Linked DNA regions of Homo sapiens: all the other regions are linked to region 3. Evidence: fine-mapped expression QTL. A gene starts in region 3. Each other region holds a variant in brackets. All regions are shown on one strand. Distances are between the middles of the regions.

The links. PIP is the estimated chance that this variant, and not a neighbour inherited with it, causes the effect. A credible set is the group of variants that fine-mapping cannot tell apart.
Region 1: its variant is the best candidate, but not a certain one, in a credible set for the expression of METAP1D in thyroid (GTEx, PIP 0.83).
Region 2: its variant is the best candidate, but not a certain one, in a credible set for the expression of METAP1D in whole blood (TOPMed, PIP 0.65).

What each region holds. Positions count from the first base shown.
Region 1 is chr2:172,062,969-172,067,211 of GRCh38, reverse strand. METAP1D (methionyl aminopeptidase type 1D, mitochondrial) reads right to left here. Exons shown (of 10, transcript NM_199227.3): 3 at 3,352-3,501; 4 at 1,460-1,608; 5 at 906-948. Among named protein-coding and RNA genes, the nearest start is that of DLX1, 20 kb to the left of the region's middle. The variant C/T (reference allele first, on the strand shown) is at 2,403.
Region 2 is chr2:172,030,551-172,034,793 of GRCh38, reverse strand. All of the region lies in intron 1 of METAP1D (methionyl aminopeptidase type 1D, mitochondrial), which reads right to left. Among named protein-coding and RNA genes, the nearest start is that of METAP1D, 33 kb to the right of the region's middle. The variant C/G (reference allele first, on the strand shown) is at 1,935.
Region 3 is chr2:171,998,207-172,002,449 of GRCh38, reverse strand. METAP1D (methionyl aminopeptidase type 1D, mitochondrial) reads right to left here and starts at 2,497. Exons shown (of 10, transcript NM_199227.3): 1 at 2,441-2,497. The coding sequence starts at 2,480. It overlaps LOC124905590 (a long non-coding RNA gene), which reads left to right and starts at 2,541. Exons shown (of 3, transcript XR_007087296.1): 1 at 2,541-2,771. RefSeq lists a silencer at 2,503-2,802.

The sequences.
Region 1 (4,243 bases), 65 kb before region 3:
TCTCCTAAGATGTTTAAATTTTGTTTATTTATTTAAAATGTATTTGTTAATCATTAGATGTACAGAATTTATTTATAATCTAGGTAATCCAAAGGTATCATTACAAAATTCTTTAATAAACAGAAATGTAAAAGCACATATAATCCAAGTCTGAGAATGGTAAAAGGCTAAGAAAATGAGAAAAAGCTACATCTTGTACAATTTGAAGTCCCTATGATAAATTACTTAGGCTTGTTACTTAAAAGAAAGGCTATTAACCATTTGGTGAAAACTTAAGTTCAGACAAAAAAACCACTCTGCTTACTTTGAGCACAAGGCTCTCTATACCAGAAATGGAACTCAACGTTACCTTCAGGGATTTTAATAAATCTAGGGAACACTGCTAGCAAAAGAGTTGCTGTCCAAATAGACTGACATACACAGGCCAATGTAGCCCCTAATGACAGAGTAAGATAATGACAGGCCCCACTCAAAATCAGCAGGAAGAGGAAGATCAATCTTGGCAGAGTGAAGGAAAAATGCTGGCTTTCTTCGTGTTAGCTCATCTCATACATATCTAGCTTCAGCAGCTGCCCAGTGCTGTGGTGCTCTGCGTTAACTACACAGTGGATCAATAACAATTACACCTTCTCAAAAACATGACACATAGCAGGATTGGGTTGACATTTCACTTAGGCCAACATTGATCTCAGTGCATCTGATTGCAGCCCTAAATTCAAGTCAGGCCTGGGTTTACTTGGAATAAACACAGAGTTAAAGACAAAAAAGGAAACCAGCTGCTTGCGTCTGGGTCTAGAAGTAAACAGCACTTCCACTGGTGCAGTTCACATTTTCAATCCACTCTTCCTGTTGCTACCAGCAATTCTGAAGTTGATCAAAGACAATTTTTTATATGATTTACTCACTGTGACATCAATGTTGATAATATCTCCATCCTGAAGAGGTCGACTAAAACGTAAACAGAAAAAAAAATGGTGATAGACAGATCTCAATAAAAGGAAAATAAAAATAAATACTTAATGACTACTGTCACAAACCCAATGGGATGCAGTGATAATTTGGAGTGAAGGAGGACTACACAGGATAACTAAATCTAATCTTTATTTCAAAAGATGCACTTAATTTATTACCTTAATTTTGCCAAGAACCAAAACAAGAGTTGATAAGAAAAATTTGCCACATTTGAATTTTACCACTTATATGATTAAAATCTAAGAAGTAAAAGACATACGTAATGCACAACCCCCATTTAGATTATGCACTGCTTTAACAAACATTAAATGGTGGTGGTGTATCCATTTAGAAGTAAAATACTTCAAAATTTCTGTTTTATCATAATCAATTTCAGAAGTTTACCGGTGGGTTTCAATTGAATGATAGTGTCTTTCAACATATGTTACAGATCTTAGCTTCATGTTTTAGTTTCCAAAGGAACAATATGTTATTAAGAACTGAATACCTGTCAGGAATACCATGACAGAGCACGTTGTTTACAGAGGTACAAACAGATTTTGGAAAACCTCCATAGCCTAGAGGTGAGGGATAGGCATTATGACTGATGATTTCCCGATGAACAAGAGCATCTATCTCTTCAGTTGTCATGTCAACCTAAAATGTTAAATAAAGAAATTGTGCAGCAACAATTGAAGACATTTCTTGTATTTATCAACTATGCTATAGCAACAGTACTTCCATGTGAGACTGTATAAATTTACTATGATAAAGTTATGGTACAACATTTGAATTAATTATGATTAGTGTTAGAATCCTCAACTGTGCCTTGTGGACAATCATTTGGGCATATGATGGTGTTATGGACCATTAGGAAATAGAAATGTTAAACCCTACGATCCTCTAAATCATTTGTGAGTCATTAAATGACATAACTCCCTTTTGGCCTGAGGATTTCAAAATTATGTTCTTCGGCAATTCCTTACTCTTTCTCAATGATTGGTGCCCTGGGCTACCCAGCGCATGTGAATAAATGCTCAAAAGGTTCATCAGTTGAACCTTGAAAAGCTTGAAAAGTAGGTCAACTCGCATCTTTTTATCTCAGTAAAACATTACAGGGGTTTTGCAGCAATGGCACAGAGATTATGGTTGATATTTAAAAGAGTGAGTCTAATATAGTTTGTAGAGATTTGATTTTAAGTAATCTTCATTTCTTTCATGTCTAAATAAATGTAATTTTTAAAATATTTTTTCCTTACTAAAGGTATTCCAAACTAAATTGCTCCCAAACTAAAAGAAAACTGAAATTGAGTTTTATAAGTATATGAAGACTATTTCCATAAACTCCATAAACATAAATAAAATTCTAAAACAAAAATAAAATCTTTTATTAAAAATTAACCATTTCTTCAATAATTTTCTTCATTTTGTATATATACATTATGTTTAGC[C/T]GTGTTGTAAGTTTATTACACAGAAGATACTGTGAGTGATTTTATCTTTGAGTCTCACTTCCTAAATTCTGCCCACCTTTTGGCAGAAAATAGGCTCATATTTTTCTTTTATAATCCTTATACAGAAGGGTGCTTCAGATTATTATGAAAGAACTAAATGAAAGAACTAAATCTTTTTTTTTTTTTTTTTGAGATGGAGTCTCACTCTGTTGCCCAGACTGGAGTACAGTAGCATGATCTTGGCTCACTGCAACCTCCACCTCCTGGGTTCAAGTGATTCTCCTGCCTCAGCCTCCCAAGTAGCTGGGACTACAGGTGCCCGCCACCATGCCTGGCTAATTTTTATATTTTTAGTAGAGGTGGGGTTTCACCATGTTGGCCAGGCTGGTCTCGAACTCCTGACCTCAAATGATCCACAGCCATGAGTCACTGCGCCTGGCCTAAAAGAACTAAATCTTGTAGTAGGAAGTTGTATGTAATTACACTGCTATATTACCTACAGCTTTGTGTATGTGATCTGATCTTTCTTTGCAGGGCAAATGCAAGAAAATAGGAGACAAAGGACAAGGTAGAGCAAATCTTCAAGCACACAGAAATAATGTGGGGAGTAAAAGCTGAAACTACAGGCAGGAGTAGGGGGGCAAAAATCAAAGCTGTCTGCCATTGATCAACTTGGATAGGTTGACTGAGACCAAAGTATCTCTAGAATTCTGCTAGTTAAAATTGAATTTGGATTTTAAATTACTTCTTGAATAAACACATAAAATAATAAAATTCCTTTTCCCCATCCCAAGGCTTTACTTAATTTTTAAAAACAAATTAATTTAAAACAAATAAATTTTTAAAACAAATTAGATGTCAACCTAAAAGAAGAGTTAAGGAGAAGGAAAAAAAGAGGAGTGTTTGTTGCCCCTTATGTAAGTCGTTCTGAGGCTTGGTGAGACGCCACCTTTAAACTCTTCCCAGCCAAGAGGAGGACGTGGCGGGCCAGCTGACAAGCCTGATGAAGCCCTTGAATCTGATCTTCATTCTTAACTTCTATGCTGTCTCCCCAGTCTGGTACAATGCCTGTCGTCACATAGTCTGGCTTCTTTATGTGCTTGAGGAAAAAGGATTGAAAACGAAGATCAGAACCCAGCGCACGACAATGGGATCATTTTTTCAGACACAGCCTCCTGCTTCATGGAGCTCTGCCCTTCCTGCCGGAGCACCGACCTCCGAAGCCAGCACAACAGACCCTCCAGGCTGCCCCCAGTTCCTTCCCCTGCCCTTTTGAACTTAACATTGCCTGTTAGTGCTGCCTCTGGATGGTCTGTTAACCTTACCATGCTTTGAGTCAAACTGGACTGAAGTAGACTTCTGGTCAAAACAAACAGTAGTTTTCTCTTTTTCCTCCTCCCAACCCAGTTAGAAGCATATTCACCATTGATGAAAAATAGCACCAAGCTTCCAATTCACCAAATGGTTAATTAAGAGCACTTTCATCTTCTTAACACAAAAATATAATTTATGCAAAAGATAGCTCCCAACACCCTCTCAAAATGAACATATGTAAAAAGGCTGACTATCAAGTTCCCTAAAGCCTATTACATATACACTTTTCTTACATTTTGCAACCGTACTTACACTGAGACACTAGAATAAAATGAAACAAGTTTTATTCTTCAAATACATAAAAATTACCTAGAACATTTCCATTATTTGTCAAGAGTAAACAAAAAGCCACCCCAAAACTCAAGACGTGCAACCCTGATCACTTTTGCAGACCATTCTCCACCATGGGCAGTATTCAGGAAATAAATACCATCTTACACACAAAGCTTCTTTCAGTCCCAAGGTTT
Region 2 (4,243 bases), 32 kb before region 3:
GAGAAATTTATATTTGCAAATTTTTTAAAATGAAGTCTTATAATTACTCTATTACTACAAACTAATTGATAAAACCCTTGTTGGATACATAATTATATTCTTATTCCAGAGCTTTTTAGTTGATATAATCTATGTAGACAGCCATACTGCTTGTTGAAGCAGAAAAAGCTACTAAATTTTCTAAGCAGAAAACCTGGATCCTTTCAGGAACTTCATAATAATAAAACAGTTGATATATTTGTGGCAATTTACAAAGTAACATCATACATATTATTAAGTTTGGCACAACAACCCGGACCAGGTGGTAAACTGGGAAAATAACCTTGTACCTATTTTATAGGCAACGCCCTAACCAGAAATAACACACACACACACACACACACACACAAAAACTGAGACTTATGGAGGCTAATGAATTTGTCCACGATCACAAATTTACAAGTGGCAAATCTGGGATTTACCTAAGCCTATTTTAAAAACTTTTTATTATAGAAAATTTCAAAAACACACAAAAGTAGATTAGTGTAACAAATCCCCATGTATCTATCATTCAGCTTCAACAATGGCCAATAGATGGCCAATCTTGTTTCATCCATAACCATCATCCCTTCCCACTGGATAATTTTGAAGCCTATTCAGATATCATATAATTTCAACTGTAAATATTTCCATGTGTACATCCAAAAGATGAGGACTTTTGTTTTTTTTTTTTTTTTTGAGATGAAGTCTTGCTCTGTTGCCCAGACTGGAGTACAATGGCATGATCTCCACTCGCCGCAACCTCCGCCTCCTGGGTTCAAGTGATTTTCCTACCTCAGCCTCCCGAGTAGCCGGGATTACAGGCACGCACCACCACTGCCAGCTAATGTTTTGTATTTTTAGTTGAGACAGGGTTTCACCATGTTGGCCAGGCTGGTCCCAAATCCCTGACCTCGTGATCCCCCCCGCCTCGGCCTCCCAAAGTGCTGGAGGCCGTGAGCCACCATACCCGGCCTGTGATGAGAACTCTTTTTAATGGTTTAATAATATAATATTATACCTTTAGAAATTAACAATAGTTCCTTAGTACCATCAAATATTTTATCAGCCTTTAGATATTCTCCTTTTGTCATATATTCTTTTTTAAATTAAACAAATGGGCTGGGCCCGGTGGCTCACACCTGTAATCCCTGCACTTTGGGAGGCCGAGACAGGCACATCACTTGAGGTCAGGAATTCGAAACCAGCCTGGCCAACGTAGTGAAACCTTGCCTCTCTAAAAATACAAAAAAATTAGCCCGGGCATGGTGGCAGGCACCTGTAATCCCAGTTACTTGGGAAGCTGAGGCAGGAGAATTGCTTGAACTCGGGAGGCGGAGGTTGCAGTGAGCCAAGATCGCACCACTGCACTCTGGCCTGGGTGACAGAGTGAGATTCCGTCTCAAAAAAAAAAAAAATTAAACAAATGTATTATTAAAATAGGAGCCAAATAAGGTCTATTGTACTTGATTGCTATGTCTCTTATGCCAGTTTTAATGAATTCCTCCCTTTTTTCTTTCTCGTAAATTATTTGTTAAGAAAATGAATTTGTCCCTAGCACTTCTCACATTCTGTAACTTACCAGTTGTATCTTGGTGGTGTCAATTAATATGTTTCTCTGTCCTTTGTATTTCCTGTAGACATATTAAATCTAGGGATTTGTTCTGATTCAAGTTTGATTTTTTTATTTTTATTTATTTATTTATTTATTTATTTAGAGATGGAGTCTTGCTCTGTCGCCCAGGCTGGAGTGCAGTGGTGTGATCTCAGCTCGCTGCAAGCTCCACCTCCCGGGTTCACGCCATTCTCCTGCCTCAGCCTCCCGAGTAGCTGGGACTACAGACGCCCGCCACCAGGCTCAGCTAATTTTTATTTTTAGTAGAGATGGGGTTTCACCGTGTTATCCAGGATGGTCT[C/G]CATCGCCTGACCTCGTGATCCACCTGCCTCGGCCTCCCAACGTGTTGGGATTACAGGCGTGAGCCACCACGCCCGGCCTCAAGTTCAATTTTTTTGGCAAGAATATTTAATGGACAGTGGTGTGCTCTGATAGCTGTGGCTCTTTTTGTGATGTTAGCAACCATTGATGACCAGTAGATAGATTCATTATTTCACGAGGGGTTTGCCAAATGGTGATATTCTCTCAGACCTTCTTAATTTGTTGGCAGAAATACTTCTAAAAAGAGAAACTTTCTTTCATCAAATATTTGGTCATCCTGAGGTTCAGTTCCATACAGGATATATCAAGTTAAGGGCTTGATTCTTTCCTTCTACTTAACCAGTTTTCAAGAGTGAGTTAAAAAATATAGGGCTTTCAACAACAAATTCAGTGTTCCTAATCAGAGATTACATAAAGTATCTATCTAGAAGATGATCTATTTCTATCTAAATGATTTCTACAGGGAAGGTTGAGTCAAGTGAAACATAATTTCACTTTGAAATAAGAATACTAATCAGAATCCAGTAAAACAGAAACATTTTACTGATTTTATCATAAAGTAAAACTATTAATCTCTCAGACTTAATAAATCACGTATCTTTTCTATTCTTTTCTTCTCACACTTTTATTTCGGGAGTGGGATGAGGCTGGGAGATTAGAGGTAACAAGATAAGACTGCAATTTAAAGGGGGAAAAACTCAACTCCAAATGGGTTTTTCTTTAAGAAGGAAACCCAAAACCAAAAGAAAACAGGTAAAATTAGCTATTGAAATTATGGCTATGTGAATCAACCCTTGCTCCCTACATCTGGCAGCATTTAGCTCCCCGAGGGCATGCTTGGTGCCCCAGGGCACCGTTACACATGTTTGACCAGCCGGGCAACAAGAAAGGACGCAGAAACTATGAATAGAGGCAGCAGGTAACCATCAGGCCGACCAAATGGCTGAGGCACTTTGACAAAACACACAATGAAGCAACTGGTTATTCCCATGGCTGAAAAGTCAACGACGTAGGGCTTTATTTTGGGATTCGAATTCCACAACACTCCTCTTTAAGTCACTGGGTTACTTCCTTGTTTAAATCAGGTCCTCAAATCCTCCCTTTTCTTTCAGACACTCAGTGAAAAGCATCAGAGATGAGCTGTATAAAGCTACTTTGTATTCTTGCCAAAAACCCATCTGAGAATTCAACTAGACTGTTTTCTGGACTCTACTCCAAGTCTGTGCAGGAAGTGAAGGTGCCAAATTATTCTGGAAACACTTTGGTATTGTGCTCAAAAAGAGAGAGAAAGCATATGTGAATGACTTCCTCCATCTTATTATATAATATCCATTTTACAACTGAGATAAGTCTAGTGCTATAGTTTTAAATATGGCTCCCCTCTAACTAAACATTTTATTATTATAAAGGACAGGCTTTGCCCACCTTTCCTACAACCTAAAGCCCTCTTTTGGAGCCCCTGGTAGGGGAGTGTCTCCCTTCTCTCCCACCAAGATCCCTACCCTCTGCTCTTCCTCTGGGGTCTTCACCAAGACTACTGAAAACATACCCAACTCATTCCTTCTAAAGCAATCTTGGCAAAACCCAGAGTGATAACTCCTATTAAACTAAGCCTTTATGAGGATACTCCATTAACCCAAAGAAAATTCTAATACGTAGTTGGACATTTTATGTTCCAAGAAGGCTGTAGGGGACATATTTTAGGGCCAGTGGACCTTTCCAATTATTTCAAATTATATCATTTGTTAATAATAACCTGTTTTATAAAAATATGACACTCTGGGGGAAAATACTATAAATGTCTTTAGTCTCCCAATAAAATATTTCTGAATTATGAATTTTTAAAAATGATGAGTACTTGAGAAAATTTTCCTAAATTATCATTTCCTAAATTATCATTATCATACCTAAAGTCTTTACTTCTGAAAAGTAATTTCTTAAAACTACACAGCAGGATGACATTTTTAATGTATGAGACATACATACATGTGAGTGAGCTTAACTGTAGAATTAAGACATTCTTTAACAACTGGTTCACATACAACTAAATATTTAGAGAAGCTAAATATATTTCCAATTTTAAGTACAGAAGAAAGTTAAATGAAAGACTTTCTTAAGAAACAGTATATTTCCTGCGAATTGATGTCGCTCCATGGTCTCCAATTTAAGACAAAAGCAGAAACGTAATTGCTGGCTGCATTCCTATTGCTCATGACTTTATTACAAAACCAGAAGCAAATCAAGGATTTGAATTTAGAAAGATGCTTTCCAGTGGTAAAGGCTGAAGAT
Region 3 (4,243 bases):
AATAATAAGTGATCAAAAAGAAAGAAAAGATTAATGCTATTTCTGTTATCTGCAAAGAGATGTTATATATACAGTTGGTGCAAAGTAATCACAGTTTTTGTCATTGATTCTAAAACTGCAATTACTTTTGTACCAACCTAATACATATATACACACATATAAAAATACGTTTATACATGCATAGGTGTATATATATATACATACATACACCTATGTATGTTTTCAGGTTGTTTTTTTTTTGGCTCCTCCTCTACATTGACTATCTCCTCAGATCCTTCTCACCATTACCTGAAGCATACAAAAATGAAGTCTAAAAGCCATGATTTCTTGTGAAAAGAGGAAACAGAAAAGTAATTAGTAAAGAAAGTTTGGACTGGAACCCAGATCTTTTTTTTTTTTTTTTCAGCTCACTACAACCTCCGCCTCCTGGGTTCAGGCGATCCCTCCCACCTCCACCTCCCAAGTAGCTGGGATTACCAGCATGTGCCACCACACCTGGCTAATTTTTGTATTTTTAGTAGAGACAGGTTTCACCATGTTGGCCAGGCTGGTCTTGAACTCCTGGCCTCAAGTGATCTGCCCGCCTTGGCCTCCCAAAGTGCTGGGTAATATTACAGGCATTAGCCACCTTGCCAGGCCTGGCACCCAGATCTTGAGAGATGTAAATTGGCTGTCTTTTCACAAGGCTACACTCTCATGCTGATGTCCATTCCTTCATGCAACCAGTCCAAAATGCTCGCTACATCACCTTCCCCATACACATCTCTCCCCTCAAATCTTCCTGTGGCCCCTTTCTCATCTCCACTAACACTGAAATACTGAAGTCTATTCGATTACCAACCTTCTTCCTCTCTAAAAATATCTTCCTCTTCACTTCTTATTTTTTATTATTTTTATTTATTTTTTTTTTCTGAGACGGAGTCTCGCTCTGTCGCCCAGGCTAGAGTGTAGTGGTATGATCTCAGCTCACTGCAACCTCCACCTCCTGGGTTAAAGCAATTTTCCTACCTCAGTCTCCCGAGTAGCTGGGATTACAGGCATGCGCCACCACGCCCAGCTAATTGTGTATATTAGTAGAGACGGGGTTTCACCATGTTGGCCAGGCTGGTCTTGAACTTCTGACCTCAAGTGAGCCACCTGCCTCGGCCTCCCAAAGTGCTGGGTTTACAGGTGTGAGCCACCGTGCCCAGGCTCTCTTCACTTTTTGTACACACTCATCCTGCACTGTCTCTGCTGAACTTTACACACTGACTTCTATGGAGTGACCACGTCATGCAGTACCGAGAAATGAGTCTTAAAAAAAAAAATTAGAGTCATGTTCAAATGAGCAATCTGCCTCTTACCATTTATGCGACCTTAGTAATGTTACTTAACCTCTCTAGCCTTACTTTTCCCTTCTGCAAAGAGAAAATAATTCCTAACTCACTGGGTTTTTGTTTTTGTTTTTGAGACAGGGTCTGGCTCTATTGCCAAGTCTGGAGTTCAGTGGTACGATCACGGCTCACTGCAGCCTCTTGACCTCCCAGGCTCAAGCGATCCTACCACCTCAACCCCCAGAATAGCTGAGACTACAGGCATGTGTCACCACGCCCGACTAATTTTTAAAATTTTTTGTAGAGACGGGGTCTCATTCATTGAGTTTTAAAAGGAAGCAAGCATATGTAAGGCGCTTAACACAGTATCGTGTACTTAAAAGGCACTTAATAAACAGTAGCTGTTACTATGAAAATAATATTTACCTCACAAAACTGTTCCTACATGCCTGACGCTTAAGTAGCTCCTCAAAATATGATAGTTTTCCTCTTCCCCCGTCCTTGGAAAAACTTTCTAGTTCTTTCCAACAAAGATTCAGCACCTAGTTCAAATCCAACAAAGATTTCCCCAATTCTGCTGCAAAGGCATTTGTATATTTACTAAAATCTCAACACTCACGCAGGATAAAACCTACTTAGAACTACCCAGACATCCTTTCTTATCTTCTTAACTTTAAGTCACTGGAAGAAAACCATCACATTTTGCAAGTCCCCAAAAAGCATGCCTGCATAAAAGCTCTAGGGAAGGGAACCGGGTGTCCAGATGCATTTCAGAATTACCATAGGTTTCCTTGCTCGGCATACAGAATAAATGTTGGTTACACTAATGATACAACCGAAGTTGGGGAAAAAAACTTCAGACAATGGCCCGCAAATCTCAAGGAGTAATTGCGAAAAGATGCCACGTGGTGACGTGTTCTAGGCGGGTGATCAGTGAACAAATTTGTATGTGTGATCCTGTGGTGTGTGAATGTGTCATCGTGTGTGCCTGCGTGTGTTCGTAAACACTGAAAGTACAGTCGTGTGCGCCGAGAAGTCTGAGCGCGGGTGCGCATCCCTTTGGACCCGGGTGCGTACCTAGTGAGCAACCGTGCGAACCCTCACGGGGCTCTCCTCCACGCGCTTACCTCTGCGGACGAGCAGGTGGACGCCACTGGGCGCCGCCATGTTGGCGTCGGTCACGTGGCCGCGAGCACTCGCTCGCCGCCCCGCCCGCTGGAGCCGGCCAGTCGCAGCCCTGCCGAAGCCCTGAGGCGTCGAGGCCGCCCGAGGGGAGCGCGCGTGCGCGCGCGGGGCTGACTGCGGGAGCCCTGGCTGGGAAGCGGCTAGGGCACCCGGGCAAGCAGCAGAACCCGCGGCCGGCTGAGTCCTCTCCAGCCGCGAGAGGCGGGCTCCAGCCGCGGCTCGCGCGCTCGCTCTGAGCCCCCGCGCCCAGGTGGGATGGAAGAAGCCTGTCAGGTAAGCGTGGCATCCAATATTTATAGCATCAACATTTTGGTGCATGGAAACGTGAAGTTGGGCGGAAAAAATAAAGCACAATCTAGTGTTCAACATAGCACTTTGTATCGTCTGCCACTCTGTTGCAAATTATTCCCCTGGATTCAGTTGAAAGGTAAAATTTGGTTCAAAGTCACCAGCTCCCCTTTTGCTGTCCCAGAATCTACATTACTCAGCAGAGACTCCAGACAACACAGGATCTGTGTGTCGCTGCAAAATCTATTCTAGGTACCCCAGTGGGTATGTTCAGGAGACTTCTCTTTCTCCAAGGACGCCTTCTGCTTGGCAGTATTAACTGGAGTCTTAATCCTAAATTTGGAGTTTAAGTATAAAAGGATGACGCCTGCCAATTGCATTGCCAAGAGAAGAAGCCTACAGAAGGCCAATTGTGAATCAGATGAGGGAGCTGATGTATGCCTACTGATGACGGTGCCCATTTTTACCAAATTCACTGTCTCTCTTACCTGTGTTCTGGGGTAGATGCCATCCTGTCATGGACCAGGTGTTATTCATCTTAGTAGCCTCCGTGCCCGGCACAGAACCCGATACCCGAGGAATGTCAGGTGAAGCAATTGAACACTGCATGAAACCAGTCAAACTGAGAATGTAACCGTTTCCAGACTTTAAATGCAGTGAAGATTGATTAGGATTCTCAGTGAATGTGTGTGATGTCTTCTAATTAATTTTTAAGCACTACACACTCAGTGAATAATCTAGACAATTCAGAACAATTCAGAAATAAGGAACAAGTGCAAGCCCCTTCCTCGCCCTCTGTACATACCATAGTCCCACTCCCCAGTTAACCACCGTGTGCTCAATTGAGATCTTTGCCTTTTACACACAGGCAAATGTAAGTATTTTAAATAGAATCATATGACTTGCTTTTTCCATTCCAGTCATCATAGGCATCAAATCTTAGAACACTTAGTTCAGACTTATTCTTTTTAATGACTATATAATCTTGATATTTTTACTTTTAAAGAGAGTGAATGTTGGCATTTCATTAGAGGACACATGCTATAATTCTGGAAAACCTGGTTTTGGATGCTTTTGGGTCACCTTGAAAGATAAAGAGAAGTAATGCTTTCCATCAGGGTAAATAAGATGCACAAGAATGAGAATAAAATGTACTCCTACCTTTTGCAAACTCATTTCAATTCCAGGGAGAGCATTTTTGAATGTGGCAAATCTGTCCTCTGTGTAACTGAGGCCAGCAATCTGAGTGCAGCAAAGGAGCCTGAGAGTTAGCTGGCCACAGAGTCTTAAGCAGTGTACAGAAAAAAGAAATCTAGACATCCCTATTCCTTAAGGCATCAAGCCTAGTTTCAAACCCATCTGAAATAGAACACATGTTCATGTGACTTAACTCAGCCAACCCTTGGAAAATAAATGAATGCTTTATTCCCCTACAACTAAAAGGAAAAGGAAACACT